Regions from separate parts of the Homo sapiens genome. Here all the other regions are linked to region 1. The links come from fine-mapping of genetic effects on gene expression. A gene starts in region 1. Each other region holds a variant in brackets. All regions are shown on one strand. Distances are between the middles of the regions. Region 1 holds the start of LAT2 (linker for activation of T cells family member 2). Region 2 has its middle 25 kb from the start of EIF4H. Region 3 holds the start of MIR590 (microRNA 590).

Region 1 (8,182 bases):
TTTCATATATATATTTATATATATATTTTCATATATATATATTTTCATATATATATATATATATTCATATATATATTTATATATATTTTCATATATATATATTTATATATATATTTTCATATATATATATTTATATATATATTTTCATATATATATTTATATATATATTTTCATATATATATATTTATATATATATTTTCATATATATATATTTATATATATATTTTCATATATATATATTTATATATATATTTTCATATATATATATTTATATATATATTTTCATATATATATTTATATATATATTTTCATATATATATTTATATATATATTTTCATATATATATATTTATATATATATTTTCATATATATTTTCATATATATATTTTCATATATATTTTCATATATATATTTATATATATTTTCATATATATATTTTCATATATATATTTATATATATTTTCATATATATATTTATATATATATTTTCATATATATATTTATATATATTTTTTCATATATATATATTTATATATATTTTTTCATATATATATATATATACATATATATGGCTGCAGTGAGCTGTGATCATGCTACTGCACTCCAGCCTGGGCAACAGAGTGAGACTCCGTTTCAAAAAATAATAATAAGGAGACCTGGCCCCCTGGAGATGGCTGGGGACAGAGTTGAGGGTGGTGGGGTCTCTGAAGGGGTTGAGTATGGTGGGCATTTGTGGAGCCAACACTCCCGAGTGTCCACTCTCCCCCACCCGCCGTGTTCTTCCCACCCTGGCCACCAGTGAGGAGGGCTTCTCCCCATCCCACAGCTGGGGAAGGTGAGGCTTGGAGCAGTAAACAGGACTTAAAAGGGAGGAGCTCCAGCAGGGCGTGGTGGCTCACGCCTGTAATCCCAGCACTTTGGGAGGCCAAGGCGGGCAGATCACGAGGTCGGGAGTTCGAGACTAGCCTGACCAACATGGTGAAACCCCATCTCTACTAAAAATACAAAAATTAGCCGGGTGTGGTGGCACACGCCTGTGATCCCAGCTAATCAGGAGTCTGAGGCAAGAGAATCACTTGAACCTAGGAGGTGGAGGTTGCAGTGGGCCGAGATCATGCCACTGCACTCCAGCCTGGGCAACAGAGCGAGACTCCATCTCAAAAAAAAAAAAAAAAAAAAATGGCCGGGCACAGTGGCTCATGCCTGTAATCCCAACACTTTGGGAGGCTGAGGCGGGTGGTTCATGAGGTCAGGAGTTCAAGACCAGCCTGGCCAAGATGGTGAAACCCTGTGTCTACTAAAAAAGAATACAAAAAATTAGCCAGGTGTGGTGGTGGGCGCCTGTAATCCCAGCTACTCAGGAGGCTGAGGCAGAGAATTGCTTGAACCAAGGAGGTGGAGGTTGCAGTGAGCTGAGATCACGCCACTGCACTCCATCCAGCCTGGGCAACAAGAGCGAAACTCTATCTCAATAATAATAATAATAATAATGGAGGAGCTCCAGGCTGCCTACCTCCTGCCTTGGGATCCCCCTGAGGTCCACCAGGACCTGGGCTGTCCCCCTTGAAAGCTGTGTGGCTTTGGACAAGTCTCAGGACCTCTCTGGACTTCCCAAATCCCTGCGGTAAGATGACAGGGAATCTCCATGCGGCCCTGAGCCTCTGTAAGAGGCGCATCACAGAGAAGCCACCAGGCCTCTCCCCAAAAGCCAAGTGAGTCAGTGGGAACAAGTGAATTTCTGAGCCGTGTGACTGGCACGACCCACGTCACCCCGGGAGGTTGTCCGAGGAAAGCTCTGCTCTCTCTTCCCCATGGCCCGCCTGGGCACTGCCCTTCTCCCTCCTCGAAACTCTCCTTGCCTCAGTGCCCCCAACCCGGGGTGTACCCCCAACCCCTCCAGCATGGCCCAAGTTCATCTCAGGCTTGTGAGGTTGGAGCAACTTGTCTTGCAGGAGGGCTCATGGGACCAAATCTAGCCTCTGCCTGAGAGCCCCCCGCCTCAGTTTTCTCATCTATAAAATGAGGTCGGGCTGGGTACAGGGACTCACACCTGTAATCCCAATACTTTGGGAGGCTGAGACAGGAGGATCACTTGAGTTTGAGACCAGCTTGGCCAACATGGTGAAACCCTGTTTCTACTAGAAATACAAAAATTAGCCAGGCGTGGAGGTGCAAGCCTGTAATTCCAGCTACTTGGGAGGCTGAGGCATGAGAATCACTTGAACTCAGGAGGCAGTGAGTTGCAGTGAGCTGAGATCACGCCAGTGCACTCCAGCATGGGAGACAGAGTGAGACTCCATCTCAAAATAATAATAATAATAATAATAAATTAAATAAATGAATAAATAAAATGGGATCAGGCTGGGCGTGGTGGCTGACGCCTGTAATCTCAACACTGGGAGGCCGAGACAGGAGGATCGCTTGAGGCCAGGAGTTCGAGACCAGCATGGACGATGTAACAAGGCCCTGTCTCTACAAAAAAATGAAAAAATTAGGCAGGCGCAGTGGCACATGCCTGTGGTTCCAGCTACTTGGGACACTGAGGCAAGAGAATTGCTTGAGCCCAGGAGTTGGAAGCTGCAGTGAGCCAAGATCACACCACTGAACTCCAGCCTGGGTGACAGAGCAAGACCCCATCTCTAAAAACAAAAAATGAAATTTAACAAACAGTCATGTGTCTGCCCCCAGACTGAATACATCCTGCGCTGTTGGCCGGGTGCGGTAGTTCACACCTGTAATCCCAACACTTTGGGAGGCTGAGGCGGGCAAATCATCTGAGGTCAGGAGTTCAAGACCAGCCTGGCCAACATGGTGAAACCCTGTCTCTACTAAAAATAAAAAATTAGGCCAGGCACGGTGGCTCACACCTGTAATCCCAGCACTTTGGGAGGCCGAGGCAGGCAGATCACAAAGTCAGGAGATTGAGACCATCCTGGCTAACATGGCGAAACCCCGTCTCTACTAAAAATACAAAAAATTAGCCGGTCGTGGTGGCAGGCGCCTCTAGTCTCAGCTACTCGGGAGGCTGAGGCAGGAGAATGGCATGTACCCGGGAGGTGGAGCTTGCAGTGAGCCAAGATTGCACCACTGCACTCCCAGCCTGGGAGACAGAGCAAGACTGTCTCCAAAAAATAAAAAATAAATAAAAAATAAAAAATTAGCCAGGTGTGGTAGCACGTGCCTGTAGTCCCCAGCTACTTGGAAGGGTAAGGCAGGAGAACTGCTTGAACCTGGGAGGTGGAGGTTGCAGTGAGCCGAGATCACGCCACTGCACTCCAGCCTGGACAACAGAGTGAGACTCCGTTTAAAAAAATTCTGTGCTCTCTCTCTGTCTCTGTCTCCCTTTGTGTCTCTGTCTCGCTCTCACTTTCACTCTCCCATCCAGGTTCTGAAAGCAGGTGGGCTGAGGTGGAGGGAGCGGAGGGTGGACCCTCTGAGGCCCCCAGGGGCCGGCAGGGCTGGGCGGGGTGGGGAGTGGGGGCTGCCACAGACCACGGTTCTGCAGAGGCCAAAATAGCACTAAAGGGAAGTGGGCAGTTTTCATATGAACAACGATTGCCAAGAGCTGGCTTCGGGGAAGTTCTCGGGGCTGGGCTGGAGGAGCTACAGTGTCTGAATCCCGCCTGGAAGGACGCTCGAGACCACCCTGCCGGTTCTCCCAGCCTTCTCCGAGCTGAGCTGTGGTTGGGGACACTGGGGTTGGGGAGGGGGCAGCCTGGCTTGAAGCCCTGGATGGCTTTATCCACTGGACTCTGCTCTGGGGTCTGTTGGTTTTTTCATTTAGTTTTTAATTATATTTTTTTATTTTTATTTTTTAAAGAGATGGGAGTCTCACTATGTTGCTCAGGCTGGTCTCCAGCTCCTGACTTCAAATGATCCTCCCGCCTTGGCCTCCCCAAATGCTGGGATTACAGGTTGAGCCACCGTGCCCGGCTGGTCCTGTTGCTTTTTCCAAATAACTCTGGGCTTCAAATGAGCCTAGCTGGGAGGGAGAGAGGGAGGCGGGCGGGTGCAGGAGGGGCCTGAGCAGCCCTGGTCCCAGGGACAGAGTTGAGGGCCAGGTAGGGGGCTGGGCAGGGAGGCAGTGGGGGTTCTTCACCTGACCTGGGGCAAGACCTGGGCCCTGGCCTGTAATCCCACCGTTTTCCCCTGACCTGTGTAGGGGGTTACAGTCCCATTTCACGGATGAGGAAACCGAGGCTCCCAGGCCAGGGCAGCCACTGTTTTGGCTCTCGGCCACTTACTTCACCAGTCTCTGGCAATGATGGGACCACCCTGGGATGTCCCAAGGCTACACAGGCTGGACAGGGGAAGGCGAGGGCAAGAGAGTGGCCAGAAGCCCAGAAACAAACTGACCCCTGAAGTGCCACAGAGCCTGGTGCCAGGGTGAGAGTGGGGCTGCGGGAGGGGGCGCCAGGCATCCAGGCCTCTTCCCACCCCACCCAGTGGGGCCAGGAGCTCCTGGGGGATGGGGGACAGCCTGAGGACTGAGGCACCCCTGGGAAAGGCTTACCTGAGAGTCCAGGGTTCCTCACCACGGCCGCCCCATCCTGAGCCCGCACACCTGCCCAAGCTGATGCCAACACCACTGACACTGGCGGGCGGGCAGGGCGGGCTTCCTGCCAGCCACTGAATCATCCGTACATCCGCCGCACTGCCGGACAGGCTCAGCTATGAAGAGGGCGGTGGGGGGAAGGGAGGGGAGACGGGGGAAGGAGGCGGGAGAGAGAGAGAGAAGAGAAACAAAGTGAGAGGGAGAAAGAGAAGAAAGAGAGATAGGACCGGGCGAGGTGGCTCACACCTGTAATCCAAAAACTTTGGGAGGCCGAGGCGGGTGGATCACGTAAGGTCAAGAGTTTAAGACCAGCCTGGCCAACATGGTGAAACCCCGTCTCTATTAAAAATACAAAATTAGCTGGGCATGGTGGCATGTGTCTGTAATTCCAGCTACTCGGGAGGCTGAGGCAGGAGAATCGTTTGAACCTCAGAAGCAGAGGTTGCAGTGAGCCGAGATCGCACCACTGCACTCCAGCCTGGGTGACAGAGGGAGACTCCGTCTCAAAAAACAGAAAGAAAAAGAGAGAGACACAGCAGAGAGACACAAGAGAACAGGAAAATATGGACACACACTAAACACACACATAAACACAAAAAGTCACACAGAGAGGAAGAGAGATACACTCCAATAGACAGGGAGCAAGATAATGAAACTGAGGTGCTCCTGCAGATGGCAGATATGGAGACACACATACGCTAAAAAGACACACACAGGCAGAAATTCACACCCATGGGCCGGGCGCGGTGGCTCATGCCTGTAATCCCAGCACTTTGGGAGGCCAAGGCAGGCAGGTCATGAAGTCAGGGGTTCAAAACCAGCCTGACCAACATGGTGAAACCCCATATCTACCAAAAATACAAAAATTATCTGGGTGTGGTGGCGGGTGCCTGTAATCCCAGCTACTCGGGAGGCTGAGGCAGGAGAATTGCTTGAACCCAGGAGGTGGAGGTTGCAGTGAGCCAAGATAGCGCCACTGCACTCCAGCCTGGGTGACAGAGCAAGACTTCATCTCAAAAAAAAAAAAAAAAAGAAGAAGACACACACAGGCAGAAATTCATACCCATGGGCCAGGCACGGTGGCTCATGCCTGTAATCCCAACACTTTGGGAGGCTGAAGCAGGAGAATCACCTGAGGTCTGGAGTTCAAGACCAGCCTGGCCAACATGGTGAAACCCCATCTCTACAAAAAATTTAAAAATTAGCTGGGCATGAGATGGACCAAGACACACACAGAGAGACACACAGAAAGATACAGAGAGCCACAGACTGTCAGAGACACACACAGATGGGGAGAGAGCAAGAAACAGGGAGATAGAGGCCAGGTGCAGTGGCTTGCACCTGCAATCCTAACATTTTTGGAGGCTGAGGCAGGAGGATCGCTTGAGAACAGGAATTTGAGACCAGCCTGGACAACAGAACGAGACCCCATCTCTAAAAAAATTTTTTTAATTAGCTGGGTGTGGTGGCACACACCTGTAGTCCCAGTGTTTTGGGAGGCCAAAACGGGAGGATTTCTTGAGCCCAAGAGTTGGAGGCTGCAGTGAGCCGTGACTCTGCCACTGCACTCCAGCCTGGGGGACAGCAAGACCCTGTCTGTCTGTAAAAACAATAAATAGGCCGGGCGTGGTGGCTCACATCTGTAATCCCAGCACTTTGGGAGGCCAAGGCAGGTGGATCACCTTATTTAGGTCGGGAGTTTGAGACCAGCCTGGCCAAAATGGTGAAACCCCATCTCTACTAAAAATACAAAAATTTGCCGGGTGTGATGGTGGGTGCCTGTAATCCCAGCTACTTGGGAGGCTGAGGCAGGAGAATCACTTGAGCCCAGAAGGCGGAGTTTGCAGTGAGCCAAGATCGTGCCACTGCACTACAGCCTGGACAACAGAGCGAGACTCCATCTCAAAAAAACAAAACAAAAACAAAAAAACCCAAAAAACACAACAAAAAAATTTAAAATAATAATAATTATTATTTAATTAATAGCTCAATGGCCTTGGGCAGCTGTTTAATGGTCAATAGCACAAGGCAGTCCACCCACTTGTGGGATGTGGCTTTATTGACCTCAGGTGCCAGAGCATCCTGGCCTCCACAGGGAACTATCTCACTCGGTCCTCATGTCTGTGTGGATGGCAGCCACGGTGTCCACCCCAGGGCTGGGCACAGGAGCACCGCTGGGCAGGAGTGGGCTGTGGTCCCTCTGCCTGTGCTATGAGCCGTTCTCTGCACCCCGATGCCAGGAGCCTCATCTGTGCAGTGGGGTGATGAGACCCCCAAGGCTGGGGTGGAGCAGGGCTCTCCTTCCTTCTCCCACCCTTTAGCGCCCTCGCTGTCTGCAGCCTCTGACACTCGTGCCGTCCACTCCTCCACCTGTCTTTGGTCACTTGTTCCATCTGCCCTGCCCTCGTGGCCTCTGCAGGGGTCTCTCTGTCCCTGCCCTGCCCACCTACATCCCGCATCCTTTGTCTCTGTGTCCATCTGTCTCATCCTCTGGGACTCTTGCTGTCTGACCCTCTGTCTCTATTCCTCGCCTGCTTTTTTTTTTTTTTTTTGAGACAGGGTCTCACTCGGTCCAGAGGTGAAGCTGAATTTGAACCCAGACCCCAAAGCCTGGCTTCCTCACTGGGACCCCCTGACTGGCTCCTCCTCACACAATGGGAACAAGCCTGCAACAGTTTCCCTTCAGCCCCAGACTGTGCACCTGGATAGAGGTTACCTGCTGTTCTTTCCCCTTTTTTAAAATTTTTTTTGAGATGGGGTCTCACCCGGTCACTCAGGCTGGAGTGCAGTGGTGCAATCTCAGCTCACTGCAACCTCTGCCTCCCAGGCTCAAACGATCCTCCCACCTCAGCCTCCAGAGTTAGCTGGAACCCCAGGTGCATGCCACCACGCCCAGCTAATTTTTGTATTTTTTTTTTTTTGTAGAGACAAGGTCTCACTATGTTGCCCAGGCTGGTCTTGAACTCCTGGCCTTAAGCGATCCTCCATCCTCAGCCTCCCAAAGTGCAGGGATTACAGGCGTGAGGCCACCGCGCCTGGTCCCATTGAACCCGGTGTTTATCCCACCTGCTGGAGACACCAGGGAAGAGCATGACGGTCCCCCACCTCCTATATGTCTGGCATTTCAGAACCTTGGCCCCCAGTCCTGGACGCCTCTAGGCCTGGGACCCTGGCTCTGGGGTCCCACTCTCAGCTTGGGGCTAGGTTTCTCTTTTAGCCTTGGCCGCGGTGTCCCGGCCTGGCCAGAAAGAGGTGGCCGCGGAGACGAGCGGCTAGGCCCGCTGCTGCCACCTCGTGGACAAGGAGGGTAGCACATGCTCCAGAGACCGGTTCTGAGAGATTCTGCAGGCGTCCGTGTCAGGAGCTCACCCTGCCTCCCTCTGTGGCCGGACTAGGACTGAAGCTAGGGCCATCAGACGCCCAGACCTGTGCCTGTGCGAGCAACCGCCACCCTCCCTTGTTCCATCCAGCAATGCCAAGTGCACTGGATTCAGGACCACGTTTCCTTCCCACGGTAACCGGTAAGAAGACAGAGGCTCACAGAGGTGAAGCTGGATTTGAACCCAGAGGCCAAAGCCTGGCTTCCTTGCTGGGACCCCCTGACTGGCTCCTCCTCACACAATGGGA
Region 2 (8,182 bases), 61 kb after region 1:
ACCAGGCTACTTTTTGTATTTTTAGTAGAGATGTTGGCCAGGCTGGTCTTGAACTCCTGGCCTCATGTGATCCACCCGCCTCGGCTTCCCAAAATGCTGGGATTACAGGTGTGAGCCACTGCGCCCAGCCTTTATTTTTAAAAGTAAGTTTACAGCTGGGTGCGGTGGCTCACGCCTGTAATCCCAGCACTTTAGGAGGCCAAGGCGGGCAGATCACGAGGTCAGGAGTTTGAGACTAGCCTGACCAACTTGGTGAAACCCCGTCTCTACTAAAAATACAAAAATTAGCTGGGTGTGGTGGCACACGTCTGTAGTCCCAGCTGTTCAGGAGTCTGAGGCAGGAGAATCGCTTGAACCCGGGAGGTGGAGGTTGCACTGAGCCGAGATCGCGCCATTGCGCTCCAGCCTGGGCAATAGAGCAAGACTCTATCTCAAAAAAAAAAAAAAAAAAAAAAAGTAAGTTTACTTGCACAATATGCAAGATTCAAAAACTATCCATGAGGCCAGGCACGGTGGCTCACAGCTATAATTCCAGCACTTTGGGAGGCCGAGGCCGGGGGATCACTTGAGGTCAGGAGTTCAAGACCAGCCTGGCCAACATGGTGAAACCCCATCTCCATTAAAAATACAAAAATTAGATGGGTGTGGCGGGCGCCTGTAATCCCAGCTACTCAGGAGGCTGAGGCAGGAGAATCGCTTGCACCCAGGAGGCGGAGGTTGCAGTGAGCCGAGATCGCACCATTGCACTCCAGCCTGGGCAACAGAGTGAGTCTCTGTCTCTAAAAAAAAAAAAAAAACAAAAACCTTCCAGGGGTATATGGTATAAAGTTTGTCTCCCGCATACTCTGGGCAACAGGCCATCCAATTCCCCTTCCCAGTGACAACTATTGTCCCTCAACAAGTTCTCAAGGGCCATATGGATTTCCTTTTGACCTGCCAAACAGATCGGGAGTGCCTGTGGGGCAGGGTTGATCTTGTCCGTTCCCCGCAGGCTCTCTGCGGACACTAAGGAAGGGTGTGATGCTTGGGCAGATTGCAGCCATGTGAGGACAGGGGCTGGTAAGAGGGAATATGAGAGCTGTAAGGAGGGCTCCAGCCTCACACTCGACTTTGTGAACCCCTCCCTGGCTGAAGAAAGGACAGCAGCACTACCGACAAGCTATCAACCACCAGCTTCTTGGAGGGTTCAAGGGTGGGAATGGGAATTTGTTCCTGGCCAGTGCCTTCTCCATAAAATCAGTCATTGCTGTTTTTGTATTAAAATTTTTTTCTTTTTTTCTTTTTCTTTTTTTTGAGACAGAGTCTCACTCTGTTGCCCAGGCTGGAATGCAGTGGCACGATCTTGGCTCACTGCAACCTCCACCTCCTGGGTTCAAGCAAGTCTCCTGCCTCAGCCTCCCGAATGGCTGGGACTATAGGCGCCCACCACCACGCCCGGCTAATTTTTGTATTTTTAGTAGAGACGGGTTTCGCCATGTTGACCAGGCTGGTCTTGAACTTCTGACCTCAGGTGATCTGCCCACCTCAGCCTCCCAACGTGCTGGGATTATAGGCGTGAGCCACCGTGCCCGGCCTTATTTAAATCAAGCCCCTGCCTTCTCTGTTAGAGAATATCGTGACTGTGATCAAGTATCAAGTACTTGAGCCCCTTCTCCTTTTTTCTCTTTCCTTGTTGATGGCACCAGCTCTCTGCTGGAGAATATCTTTTAGCGTTAAACACAAACAAAGAAACTAAGAACAACAACAACATCAAAAAGTGCAAGGCTGCAGTAAGCCCTGATCACACTGCTGCACTCCAGCCTGGGCGACAGAGCGAGACTGTGTCTCAAAAAAAAAAAAAATTCTTTTTATTTTCTGAGACAGGGTCTCGCTCTGTCGCCCAGGCTGGAGTGCAGTGGTGCGAGCCTGGCTCAGCCCATGGGGATGGTGGTGAGCTCCTCCATTTATTTATTTATCTGGAGTCTCACTCTGCCACCAAGGCTGGAGTGCAGCAGTGCAATCACAGCTCACTGCAGCGTCAAATTCCTGGGTTCAAGTGATGCTCACACCTCAGCCTCCCAAGTAGGTGGGACTACAGGCACACCCCACCATGCCCAGCTAATTTGTAAAAACTTTTCTGTAGAGATGGGGGATGGTCTCATAATGTTGCCCAGGCTGGTCTTGAACTCCTGGCCTCAAATGATTCTCCTGCCTCAGCCTCCCAAAGTGCTGGAATTACAGGCATGAACCACTGTGCTCTGCTGGATAATGACCTTTCTCGAGCAATTACTATGTGCTCTGCTGTATCGGGTACCATCTAGTTTGATCATATATTAGACATGCAAGATAAGCTTTATCCGCTCCCTCCCCCTTTTTTTTTTTTTTTTTTGAGACGAAGTTTCACTCTTGTTGCCCAGGCTGCAGTGCAATGGCACGATCTCAGCTCACTGCAGTCTCTGCCTCCTGGGTTCAGGAGATTCTCCTGCTTCAGCCTCCTGAATAGCTGGGATTATAGGCGCCTGCCATCACGCCCAACTAATTTTTTGTATTTTTAGTAGAGATGGGTTTCACCACGTTGGCCAGGCTGGTCTTGAACCAGCCTCAGCCTCCCGTGATCCACTGGCCTCGGCCTCCCAAAGTGCTGGGATTGCAGGTGTGAGCCACTTTGCCCAGCCAGCTTTCTCCCTCTTTTATGCTGACCACGAAGTGTCTGCCAAGAGTCATTCGTGCATTCCTCATTCATGCACTCAGTATCTTCTATGGGCCATGAAACTGTGTTAGACGTTGGGGAAACAAAAGTCTAAGACTTAGCCAGGGCCGGGCGTGCTGGCTCACACCTGTAATCCCAGCACTTTGGGAGGCCAAGACGGGCGGATCACAAGGTCGGGAGATCAAGACCAACCTGGCTAACATGGTGAAACCCTGTCTGTACTAAAAATACAAAAAATTGGCCGGGCGCGGTGGCTCACGCCTGTAATCCCAGCACTTTGGGAGGCCGAGGCGGGTGGATCACGAGGTCAAGAGATCGAGACCATCCTGGCCAACATGGTGAAACCCCATCTCTACTAAAAATACAAAAAATTAGTCGGGTGTGGTAGTGGGCACCTGTAGTCCCAGCAGCTACTCTGGAGGCTGAGGCAGGAGAATGGCGTGAACCTGGGAGGCGGAGCTTGCAGTGAGCCGAGATCACGCCACTGCACTCCAGCCTGGGTGACAGAGCGAGACTCCGTCTCAAAAAAAAAAAAAAAAAAAAAGACTTAGCCAGGCATGGTGGTGCGCATCTGTAGTCCCAGCTATGTGGGAGGCTGAGGCGGGAGGATGGCTTGAGCCCGGGGGTGCCAAGACTACAGTGAGCTAAGATTGTGCCACTGTACTCCAGCCTGGGTGACAGAGCGAGACCCTGTCTCAAACAAAACAAAATGAGAAAAAATGTCTAAGACACAAAGAATTGAATCAACACTGGGAAAGTGGGTTGTGAGTTATTTTCCAAGCACATAGGAGCCAATCTATACCCCACCCCAATTCTGGCCCAAACTCCATCCAGATTTTGTTGTTCTCCAGGGGGCTATATCAGAATTTTGGCAGAGAAAGAAGGGCTATGAAACATGTACTGAAAAACCTCTCCATATGTTTCTGATTTG[T/C]CAGGCAGGGAGAACCAGAAAACCTTCCTATTGAAACTCTTTGAAATGTTTAATACAATTAAAAAAAATTATTTTCAATGCCCAGTTGAGCTCCCATGAAAGAAAGGGAAATCCTAGGAATCCAGAAACAAAGAGGAAACTAAACGCCACAGATGATAGGCAATGAATTGATCACGTCTCTGCTCTGAATGGTCACTGAGGGTCAGTGGCCAGGAGCTTGCTTTAATGCCCGTGTCAGGTCAGGAGATGAGGCCCTAGGCTAGAGTTACTAGATAAAATAGGACATTATAGGATGTATGCACTTTTTTTTTTTTTTTTTGCAAAATATGGCTAATTTAAAAAAAAATTAAAGCAATATGGAGTAAATTAAGCTAAGGGCCCCCATGCGCATTAGAAGGATGGGGTGGAGATAGGAGAAATTCACACCTTATGTAAATGAAATGCCCAGCCCTCATTGGTTTCTTATAAAAGCTTTTGCATTCAACTGTAAAAATGGCCTCTTTTGGCTGGGCACGGTGGCTCATGCCTGTAATCCCAGTACTTTGGGAGGCCGAGGTGGGTGGATCTCCTGAGGAGAGTTCGACACTAGCCTGACCAACATGGAGAAACCCCGTCTCTACTGAAAATACAACATTAACTGGGTGTGGTGGTGCATGCCTATAATCCCAGCTACTCAGGAGGCTGAGGCAGGAGAATCACTTGAACCCGGGAGGTGGAGGTTGTGGTGAGCCGAGATCATGCCATTGCACTCCAGCCTGGGCAACAAGAGTGAAACTCTGTCTCAAATAAATAAATAAATAATAATGGCCTCTTTCAGACCCCCTCTCCACGGCAGAGAGCTTTCTTCTTTAGCTTATTAAACTTTCACTCCAGCCTCATCCTTGGTGCCCATGCTCCTTAATTTTCATGGTTGTGAGACAAAGAACTCCGAGTGATACTTCAGACAATGAGAGACTACTACATTGAGGTCCAGTTCAAATGGAAATTGTATCTGGACCCAGTTCAAATGGAAATTGTGCCTGAGATCCCTTTGAAATGTGATCCTTGAAAAGCCACACAGTCTGTGAAAGGGTAGACTGGAGATCATGAGTTCATCTACCTTGAGGAGTGACAAACTTGCCTGCCTCAGCCTGATAATTCAAAGAATTCAAAGCCCTGACCTGGCTTCACATATGTGTGGGTTTCCAGATCATTCCACAGAAATAGTTCAGCCACCTGCAAGCCCCCAAGTCAGAAATAAAGATATTCTTTTTTTTTTTTTTTTAATTGTTGTTGTTGTTTTGAGACAGGGTCTCACTCTGCCACCCAGGCTGGAGTGTGGCAGAACAATCTCGTCTCACTGCAGCCTCAACCTTGTGGGTTCAAGTGATCCTCCCACCTCTGCCTTCCAAAGTTCTGGGATTACAGGAGTGATCCCCCAAGACTGGCCATTATTCTTATTTTTTAAATAGAGATAGGATCTCACTTTGTTCCCCAGGCGGGTCTCAAACTCCTGACCTCAAGCATTCCTCCTGCCTTAGCTTGCCAAAGTTCTGGGATTTCAGGTGTAAGCCACTGCACCTGGCCAAGATATTCCTAAGGAAGAAAAGAAAGTGAGGAGTGGGAGAATTCCCCGAATCTATGCCCCCAGGCTGCAAGGGATTCTCAGACAATAAAATGAAAAACAGGCCGCGGGTGGTGGCTCATACCTGTAATCCCAGCACTTTGGGAGGCCGAGGCTGGCGGATCACAAGGTCAAGAGATCGAGACCATCCTGGCTAACACGGTGGAACCCGTGGGCAACAGAGCGAGACTCCGTCTCAAAAAAAAAGAAAAGAAAAACAAAAGCAAATGAAGAGTTTATGGTTAAGCAATGTCATACAAAATGTCGCCCAGGCTGGAATGCAATGGTGCGATCTCGGCTCACCGCAACCTCTGTCTCCTGGGTTCAAGAGATTCTCCTACCTCATCCTCCCAAGTAGCTGGGATTACAGGCATGCGCCACTGCACCTGGCTAATTTTGTATTTTTAGTAGAGACGGGATTTCTCCATGTTGTTCAGGCTGGTCTTGAACTCCTGACTTCAGGCAATCCACCTGCCTCGGCCTCCCAAAGTGCTGGGATTACAGGCGTGAGCCACTGTGCCTGGGCAGTCAACAATAATTTATTATGCAATTAAAAATAACTAGAAGAGCATAATTGGAATGTTTGTAACAAAGAAATGATAAATGTTTGAGATGATGGATACCCCATTTACTCTGATGTGATTATGATGCATTGTATGCCTGTATCAAAATATCTCATGTACCTCATAAATACATATACCTACCACATATCCATAAAAATTAAAAAAAGAGGCCGGGTATGGTGGCTCATGCCTATAATCCCAGCACTTTGGGAGGCCGAGGCGGGTGGATATCTTGAGGTCAGGAGTACAAGACCAGGCTGGGCAACATGGCAAAACCCCGACTCTACTAAAACTAATAATAAAAAAATTATCTGGGCGTGGTGGCACACACCTGTAATCCCAGCTACTTGAGAGACTGAGACATGAGAATTGCTTGAACCTGAGAGGCAGAGGTTGCAGTGAGCCGAGATAGCTCCACTGGACTCCAGCCTGGGCGACAGAGCGAGACTCTGTCTCAAATAAAATAAAATAAAATAAAATAAAATAAAACAAAATAAAGCTGAGCATGGTGGCTCATACCTGTGGGAGGCTGAGGTGAGCAGATCTCCTGAGGTCAGGAGTTCGAGACCTGCCTGGTCAACATGGTGAAACCCCATCTCTACTAAAAATACAAACAATTAGGCGTGTGGCGCATGTCTATAGTCCCAGCTACTTGGGAGGCTGAGGCAGGAGAATTGCTCGTACCCGGGAGCCAGAGGTTGCAGTGAGCCGAGATCATGCCATTGCCCTCCAGCCTGGGCAACAAGAGCGAAACTCCATCTCAAAAAAAAAAAAAAAAAGAAAAGAAAAAAAGAGGCCAGGTGTGGTGGCTCACACCTGTAATCCCAAACTCTGGGAGGCTGAGGCAGGTGGATCACTTGAAGTCGAGGGTTCCAGACCAGCCTGGCCAACATGGTGGTGAAACCCCATCTCTACTAAAATACAAAAATTAGTTGGGTGTGGTGGCGGGCGCCTGTAATCCCAGCTACTCGGGAGGCTGAGGCAGGAGAATCGCTTGAACCTGGGAGGTAGAGGTTGCAGTGAGCCAAGATCATGCTACTGCACTCCAGCCTGAGTAATAGAGACAGACTCCATCTCAAAAAAAAAAGAAAAAAGAAAGAAATGTCAACGCCCTTGAGGAAATAATTTAACCTGTGTCCCAACCCCCCTCACAGGTCCTCTTGACCAAGGAAGGCTTAGTGTGTCAAGGTGTTTACGGAAACCTTCTGACCAAACAGTGGCTGGGCACTAAGCAATGCTGATTCAGAGATGGACCCCTAGGAAGCCAGTCTTGAAAATAAAAGCAAGAATCACAAAACAAAACAGAGGCTTCCTTTAGTGGCTTCAAGTTATTAAACAACCAAACAGACAACCAGCAAACAACAACAATGTCAAAATCTACAACAGCTACCACCAGGACATCAGAATTTAGAATTACAATACATGATTTAAAATGTCCAGTTTTTGCTGGGTGCCATGGCTCACACCTGTAATGCCAGCACTTTGTGGGGCCGAGTCAGGAGAACCACTTGAGCCCAGGAGTTCCAGACCATCCTAGGCAACATAGTGAGACTCTGTCTCTACAAAAAATAAAAATAAAAATAAATTAGCCAAGTGTGGTGGCTGGAGCCTATAGTCCCAGCTGCTCAGGAGGCTGAGACAGGAGGATCACTTGAGCCCAGGAGGTTAAGCTTTCAGGGAGCCAAGATTGCACCACTGCACTCTAGCCTGAGTGACAGAGTGAGTGAGACCTTGTCTCAAAAATAAGTAAAATAAGATAAAATAAAATGTCCAGTTTTCAACAAAAATTTGAGACATATCTCATTTAATCCTCCCAACAGAGGAGTTTCTACCTCTCATTTGGGGAAAATAAGGCTCAGGGAGGTAAAGTAGTGTAAACCAAAGAAAATGACTGGCTGGGCATGGTGGCTCATGCCTGCAATCCCAGCACTTTGGGAGGCTGAGGCAGGAGGAACACTTGAGCCTGGGAGGTGGGAGGTTGCAGTGAGCTGTGATTGTGAAGCAGGATGTTGCCTAAGAACTAGCCAGCTGCTTTGGTGCTGGTAGGGGTGAACTCCACTCACTCACTACTCCACCCCTCACAGGAGAGGGAGCACAGGTGAGCAGGTGCAGGAGACGGGGCGAGAGTTTTTAGGCGCCAGCAAGAGCCATCTCCATACCAGCCCCATGATAGTGTCTAGCGGAGGGTGCCGGAGACTATTGAAGCCCCAGAGGCAGTGTTAGAGTACTCTTTTAGCTCTGCTGTCTGTGAATGGCTTAAGTGTTAACAGCTTAGTGGAGGATCGGTGTGACAGCCTTTTGCATCCACACTCGTGGCACCCAAGTTCTTTTTCAGTGTCCAGGAGGAATTAGGTCACACAAATGAATTGAAGATGGTAAATGCAGGAGACTTTATT
Region 3 (8,182 bases), 22 kb after region 1:
TCACACCACGCTGGTGAAGCAGATGAACAAGGATCTCTCATCAAATCTGTTGGTGGGGGCCGGGCGCGGTGGCTCATGCCTGTAATCCCAGCACTTTGGGAGGCCGAGGCAGGTGGATCACGAGGTCAGGAGATCGAGACCATCCTGGCTAACATGATGAAACCCCGTCTCTGCTAAAAATACAAAAAATTAGCCGGGCGTGGTGGTGGGTGCCTGTAGTCCCAGCTACTTGGGAGGCTGAGGCAGGAGAATGGCATGAACCCAGGAGGCAGAGCTTGCAGTGAGCCGAGATCGCACCACTGCACTCCAGCCTGGGCAACAGAGCAAGACTCCGTCTCAAAAAAAACAACAACAAAAAATCTGTTGGTGGGTTTCTAGGAAGCAAACTATTCATGAGAATCTTCAGAGTTTTCTTTACAAAGCTTAGTTTAACACTGGCTATTTCTGATGATGAAATGTTTTTGCTTTCTTGGTACTTTTCTGTTGCTCTATTTTGTTTTTTACATGAGCAGGTATCATTAAAAAAAATAGCACCATCCTATTAAAAAGTAAAAAAGATCTACTCTCGCAAATAACGTATAAAGTATCAAATTAGCCATTACTCCATCGAGTGAGCCCACATAGGGTTTGAGATGTCACCAAAACACTGCAGTTCCCACCAGAACTGGTGGCGGCCAGGCCATGGCCGTGTTCACTGTGTCTCTGCTTGAGCGCCAGTGGCCAAGCTAAGCCAAGGGTAGAAAGACGTTAGTATGTGGGCAACTTCTATAACACCTGCGAATACCAAACTGGCAGGGGAAAGGCCGTTCCCTGAGCTGCTGGTTGGCTCTAAGAAGACAGCTGCTGCATGTTTCAATCAGAGACTAGCTTATACATAAAATTACAGATTGACTTCACCATACTGCACTTTTATGAATAAGCTCATTTCTGACTGGCTACAGGACTTTTAAGAACTATATTATTCAACAGGTAGTCGTCACCTGTTCAGCCAAAGCTGAGTTTTTAAAAATCTCAGACTCACAAGACAGCGTGCACCAGTCCCTCCCATACTCACCCACTACTTTACACCGGTTTTGTTTTGATGGGGGGAGGGTGCTGACGTTCTATACAGCACAGCATTGACAGCACATCCCAAGTTTGCGGGAAAGAAAACAAATTTGTTTTTCTCTTCCTACCTTTCTGGGTTACAACTGAAGTTTTTATCATGTGCATATATAAAAAATTATACTTTTGTAATTTAAAAACAGAAAGTAAAGATGATAAAAATGCTTAAAATCACCCTGCAGGGCAGAGGCCTGGCGTGTGGACTGATGCTTTGTGCTATACCACCAGCTGCTCTGCCTGGGTTGGCTAAGAAAGAGAACGGCGAAGTGCATCAGGTCCACCATCAAGGGACTGGACCTCCCCACAATCCTCCAAGAAAAAAAAGGGCCATCAGGACTACCTTTCACCATGTAAGAACCCAAACCTCTATCCTATGTTTTCCAGAAGGAACAGTACTTCTCTTGGTGCCATACACAAAACCACAGAGGAGTTTCCCTGGGCTAGAGTCTGAGAAAGACTGCTGAGCGAGCTCAAGGACCCAGGCCCGTACACATCCAAGGAGCTGCAGGCTAACAAAGGTGACCACACAAGGTGCATGGGGCTCAAGTCCTGCCCCCACAGGCTCTAACAGAGGCTTACTTGCATGCCTGGGCACCCTGCAGGAGAGTTGTATTTGTTAAAGGAACTAAATAAGTAGTCCGGCCAGGCGGGCTACTCGTAAGAAACAGAGAACAGCAGCAAGGCTCCTAGGAAAAATTAAGTGGTGATACTTTAAATACTGATACCAGAATTGAAGTCATCCCGGGAATCCCATCCACCTCTAGATTCTCGAGAGCTACCCATTCCTGAGGATACACAAAAAAGATAAAGTTGAGGTCGTGTCATTACCTTGCTGCGCAAACATGGAAAAATTCATTTGGAAGACATACAACTCAAGTGATGGAAGGTTCAATGAAATCATTTTAAGAGCTTTTGCTTCCAACAGAAAACAAAAAACGCCAGGCTTGCAGAAGCATCAGCCATTCTTTCTAGGATTTTACGCAAACTTTTAAGAGCTCACGAGAACCTATCACACCTATGAGATAATCGAGTTCTACTAGGAACGTTCACGAGTTGGAATTGGTAGGCATACTGCAAATCTTTATGATGTTCAGCTTTAGAAGAACCAATCACCTCTGTCATCTGGTCCACCTTTTCTGAATCCAAAGCCACCTTTATCTTGTTTTCTGCCTTCTGCAATGTCCACACGAAGTGACCGATCGCCCAACAGCTAATGATAAAGGGAAAATAGTGTAAGTATTGGCAAAGAAAACAATCTCAACTGCTATGACAGAGAAAACCCGAGGATACTTACTGCACCATCGTATGTCAAGGCTTCCTTAAGGGAATCCACTTCATCGAATTCTACATAGCAGAATCCTGGAAAAGAAAAGAAGACCCCGATTTCCTCAAGTAATTCTGGGTTAAAGATGTGGGAAGATCCTATTCATACTACTTCTCCACGTCACAACTACCATTCTGTTGTCTAGATGATGGCAGACTAGGAGAGCCTTTCAATAGATAGAACCCTGACTGGCATTCCTCCCTCTCAATTCTATTTTATCAGTCAGAAAATGCTAACTGAACATGCACTGAAATAGCAGCTGCGTTTCTAGAAAGCTTTCTTCTTGAATGTTTTAACCATAATATTCAAACCTTTCTCAGGCCATCTGCAGAGCTCTTCTGACTTCTGAATGACTATTTAATCTAAGTGAGGATTAGATTTCGTAGATTTCAAACTTGGTACCTAAAATGCTCTGAAGAAAGAGGCTTAAAGTGCCGATTTAACTTACTACTCAGGTAACTGACATAAAATTTGCTTCACAAAGCTGAAAATATATCCTTGGCAATCAGGGCATTCTTCTCTGAATGTTAATTAAAAGACAGGCAGCCTGGGTCCAAGTACCTGTTACTGACAACCTGTGTCCCTGATGCCAGGGGTCTGACATTGCCCCTTCCTTGCTGTCTGGAGTCTAAATCTAGTTCATTACTCCCCAGATGCTGGCACTACACCCTGCATCCCCTCTCCCCCAGCGTCCTTGCCCTGTGTATAATAACTTAATAATCACACTTCATCTTTGAAGCCCACTAGACCGCAAGTGCTCTAAAGGCCTGAGTCCAAACTTTCCCTGTTTACCAACTGTGTGTTAAGAACATACTGCCTTGGCTGGAGGGATGTCCCCCCAGGTTTCCTCCCTAAGTGGATTCAATGTTGAGAATAATGGAGAAAACTACCCCCAACTTCACAGAAGCAACAGACACCCAATCTCATCTTCTAGAGCTGCTCAAATGAAGATGGTCCTTCATGAGCCAAACTCCAAAGCCTGCAGCGACTGACCCAGCCCAAAGGCTAGGCTCACCCACACACTCCAACCCAAAGTTTAGTTCCTAATGCTTCCTGGAGCTTACTTCACAAGTGTAACTGATATATTTGTTTTCACTGTTTGATTACACACTACATGTGGCTTCAGATTCTGAAGTCAAAAAGAGTAAGAGTGCCACCGACACACAAAACCACCCAGGTCAGCAAGGCCTTCTCGACTGCTGGCACAGCTCCCCGCCCCAAGTTACCCCATACTTGTCACAGATGTGCTTTTGGGTGGATTATGCGGGCCAAACATCCTGGGTCCTAGCATCGTGCACTTACACAGCAGGCACACTTCCTTCAGGAAGCCCTGCAGGCAGGAGAATGCTGCTCGGATCCCTTCTTCTTCCTGCTCTTTGCTCCCGCACCCTGCAGACACACGACCTATAGACACCATATCTGAAATCTCAGCCAGCCCTCCCAAGCACACTCTCCAAATTTACAAATGCATACTGACAGCACTGGCTGCTTCTCTTCTGGGTTTTATGATTACTGGATGACAGTACCATATGATTACTGGATTAACTACCAAGGAAAATCTACGAGTCATTCCAGGAGGAATGTGCCTAAGAGTCCTCGGCTCTATTCCTCTCTCTCCTGGGGAACTCCTTTACTGGCAGACAGGACTGCTGTAGAGGTCAGGCTCACAAACCTGGGCATATGCCATGTATTTCTATGAACTACACTGTGTACAAAACATTTTCCCCTAAGTGAACTGAAGACCTATGAGTTGAAGAGTTATGTTTCTTTCGGCCACTTAGACCAGGCAAATGTTTAAAACACTTTCTTGATTACAGCCTCTGGTTCACAAATCTATTTTTATTTAGAACCCCTTCCCATCCTCCCCTACACTTTACAGTAATATACAATAAGAATCCCCCAAACTCACCTTTAAATTTATCTGTGTCTTTGTCTCTGACTAGCCGTACACTCCTTATGCTGAGATCCTTAAAGATAGCATCTATGTCGCCCTGAACCGTATTGAAAGGTAGATTTCCTACGTATGCTGTGTAGGGGGGCTCTGTGGGCAACTCCTTCTGGCTACGGGAACCATGGCCACCAGCACTGCCGCGGGACCTAGGAGGGGAGACAAACAGGATTCAAGTGTGCCCAGAGTGGAATAAGCAAAACAAGTAAAGCGGTCTTCC[G/A]CTGAGCTACGCCGCCAGCGCCCCAGGTGAGGCACTCTGCTCGATGTACCACAAGACTGTTACAGAGAATGGCTGGAGAAACAAAAAAAAAGGAAAAGAAAAATTTTTTGAGACAGACTGTCACTCTGTCACCCAGGCTGGAGTGCAGTGGCACAATCTTGGCTCACTGGAACCTCTGCTTCCCGGGTTCAAGAGATTCTCCTGTCTCAGCCTCCTAAGGATGCTGAGATTACAGGCATGTGCCACCACACCTGGCTAATTTGTGCATTTTTAGTAGAAACAGGGTTTCACCATGTTGGCCAGGCTGGTCTCCAACTTCTGACCTCAGGTGGTCTGCCTGCCTCACCCTCCCAAAGTGCTGGGATTACAGGTGTGAGCCACCATGCCCAGCCCAAACGTAACACACCTTCCTAAGACAACTGCTTCTCTCCTATTCACTCAGAATCTGTATCTGCAGTATTTACATCCTAAAACCTAAGCAAGTACCCTCCTTCACACACCGTGGTTCTAAGAAATACAGAAATGGACAGTCTAGAAGTAATGTTGTATTCAGAAGAAGGATTACTGAAGTTGTTTACGTTTAACACATTCATACATAATAGAATTATTTCTCCTACCGCTTGAACCTGGGAAGCGGAGGCTGCAGTGAGCCAAGATCGCACCACTGCACTTCAGCTCACGCGACAGAGACTCCGTCTCAAAAAAAAAAAAAAAAAAAAAAAAAAAAAAAAAAAAAAAAAAAAAAAAAAAATTTCTCCTTGTTGCCTGATTATGGGCATAAGAATGTCCTAATAAAAATTTTAGATGTCACACAGCAAGTACTGACGTACCTAACACTCTCGTGCAATACTTCACAGGGTCCTCAAATACATGCGTATGGCGTGCATTACCAATCCATTTCAACCTCGATGTCATCTCCTCAGCTGTATCAAGCGTCGTTTACTCTGCATAGGTATTGGTTTAAATCTAGCCTCTGTCACTTACTAGCATATGACCTTGAGAAGTTATTCAACTTCTCTAAGCTTTATTTTATTTGTAAAACTGAGTTAATCCTAATACAGCATTTTGGGAGGCCGAGGTGGGTGGATCACTTGAGGTCAGGAGTTCAAGATCAGCCTGACCAATGTGGTAAAACCCTGTCTCTACTAAAAATACAAAATTAGCTTGGTGTGGTGGTGCATGCCTGTAATCCCAGCTGCTGGGCAGGCTGAGGCAGGAGAATCGCTTGAACCCAGGAGGTGGAGGTTGTAGTGAGCCCATTGCACTCCAGCCTGGGCGACAGAGCGAGAGTCCATCTCAAAAAAAAAAAAAAGACATCAGAATATAGTATAAATAGATTATTATATTAAACGATATTTGCCATAAGAATGCCCCAGGAACGACTTAAAGTCGTTAGAAGTGAAGTGCCAAGATGGCCAACATTTGTTTTCAAGCAGGTCAGCATAAAGGGCATGTGTGCCGGTATACAGCAAGGATTCAGCAAACAAGGCAGAATAGTCACTTCTGCATCCACTAGCGTCATCCAACTGTACCATTATTTCAACCTTATTGTAGATTTGAAAATTTCCAAAATAAAACGTTTGGAAAACTCAGGAGGAAAAAAAAATTAAGGGGGTGATTTTTTTTTGAAACAGACATTTAACCCATTTCCTGTTTGCTCCAAGAATACCGTGCTGGCAGCCAACTGCAGTTTTTTTTTCTAAACGGGAAATGCGTTCAAATAAATGAGATCCTTCACAACAACCCAAGACCTGCCCAAAGTCACCCTCTTTGCAGGGGAAATATTAATATCCATCTTAGAGAGCAACCTGGTCTTTCATCTACATACTGCCAGAAACACAATGGAAATTCCACTTCTTCCTGAAGATAAATTCCAGGTGTCTTGCAGACAAATATTATTCATTAAAGCATTTTTCTAAAGTAGAAGGGTCAACCAAGCTGTGATGATTCTTTGATGGTTAAAAAAAAAAAAGCTTTTAAGTTTCATAATTCACAATTCCGGTACTTTCCAATAGGAAGTTCCACGTTCTGTTCTAAGACCACCAGAAAATAGGTTTACAAGTGAATTGCATCCTACCTGCCCACTTCTCCCATCTTTTCGGGCCTAGTAAATGTGACTTACTTTGCATTTCAATAACCTTTGCCAATAGTACTCTATCGCTGATATCTCCGAAATCATAAATCCTAAAATATTTTCAGTAAGATACTATTTAGGACGGGATAATAAATATATGAGTTACAGTATAAAGCCGGGCCCAGTGGCTCATGCCTGTAATCCCAACAGTTTGGGAGGCTGAGGCGGGAGGATCACTTAAAGCCAGGAGTTCAAGACCAGCCTGGGCAACACAGTAAGACCCCATCTCTATAAAAAATACAAAAAATTAGCCGGGAGTGATGGTCCACACTTGTAGTCCCAAGCTACCTGGGAGGCTGAGGTGGGAGGATCACCTGAGCCCAGGAGGTTGTTGCTGCAGTGAACTGTGATGGCACCACTGCACTCCAGCCTGGGTGACAGAAGGAGACTGTCTCCAACTGAAGAAACAACAACAACAACAAAAAGGCGGGGCACAGTGGCTCATACCTGTAATCCCAGCACTTCGGGAGGTCAAGGTGGGTGGATCACTTGAGGCCAGAAGTTCAAGACCAGCCTGGCCAACATGGTAAAACTCCGTCTCTACTAAAAATACAAAAACTAGCCAGGTGTGGTAGCACACACTTGTAATCCCAGCTACTTCAGAGGCTGAGGTGGAGCTTGCAGTGAGCTGAGACTGTGTCACTGCGCTTCAGCCTGGGCTACAGAGCGAGACTCCATCTCAAAAAAACAAAAACAAAAAAACACAAAAAACAAACAAAAAAGCACAAAAAACAACAACAAAACCAAACAAACAAAAAACAAGATACAGTATAAACATGTGGAAAACCATAAAAATGGAGGGTCAATGTTAAAAACAGTTTAAATTCATTACTCAACATTAAACATCTAGTGATGCGTAATGATGTTAAAAGACTGTCTTGTATGTAAGCAGCTCACAGTTGTGTGGGACGTATAAAACACATGTATATATGCAGGTATGTTTGTGTGTATGAATGTGTAACATATACATAAAAACTAAAAAGGAGGGTGAGGATGAAGAGAGATGATAAACTCTCGGGTGTTTGATGTAGTTGCTAAGTAAGGAAAATGGAGGTGCGAAGGCTTGCTAATTGTGCTCGAACTTACAGAGTAGAGGAACTGTGGAACTGAGATCAGGCCAGACTTGACCCCTGATTGAGCACAGGAAGCCCAGGTGAATGCCAGTAAGATGACGGGGCACTGCTAAAAATGCACTAGGACAGGAAGGTGGCTCTGGCTTTGGAGAAGATAGAAAAATCTAGTTTGGGGCAAACCATTTTTGAAAAGTTGGCACGTTACCAAATGGCAGCACCTAACAGCTAACTGGTGATATAATTCTGGAGCAAAGATACACCAAAGCCCACCAAACTGTTCAACTCACTCGTGCCTCACAAAACCACCAGTGGCTTAATACTCTAGACTTTTCAATAATTACCAAAGTAGTCCTAAATATTCCCATACCCTACCTGATGT

Evidence for each region. PIP is the estimated chance that this variant, and not a neighbour inherited with it, causes the effect.
Region 2: its variant is the best candidate, but not a certain one, in a credible set for the expression of LAT2 in whole blood (INTERVAL, PIP 0.68).
Region 3: its variant is the best candidate, but not a certain one, in a credible set for the expression of LAT2 in blood mononuclear cells (TOPMed, PIP 0.56).

What each region holds. Positions count from the first base shown.
Region 1 is chr7:74,206,420-74,214,601 of GRCh38, reverse strand. LAT2 (linker for activation of T cells family member 2) reads right to left here and starts at 4,596. Exons shown (of 14, transcript NM_032464.3): 1 at 4,514-4,596. RefSeq lists enhancers at 1,523-1,582, 1,713-1,792, 3,663-3,782, 5,003-5,112 and silencers at 3,473-3,562, 4,673-4,722.
Region 2 is chr7:74,145,165-74,153,346 of GRCh38, reverse strand. No RefSeq gene overlaps it. Among named protein-coding and RNA genes, the nearest start is that of EIF4H, 25 kb to the left of the region's middle. The variant T/C (reference allele first, on the strand shown) is at 3,621.
Region 3 is chr7:74,183,954-74,192,135 of GRCh38, reverse strand. EIF4H (eukaryotic translation initiation factor 4H) reads right to left here. Exons shown (of 7, transcript NM_022170.2): 2 at 4,338-4,525; 3 at 2,399-2,463; 4 at 2,218-2,314; 5 at 1,830-1,889. It overlaps MIR590 (microRNA 590), which reads right to left and starts at 938; the gene lies at 842-938. The variant G/A (reference allele first, on the strand shown) is at 4,597.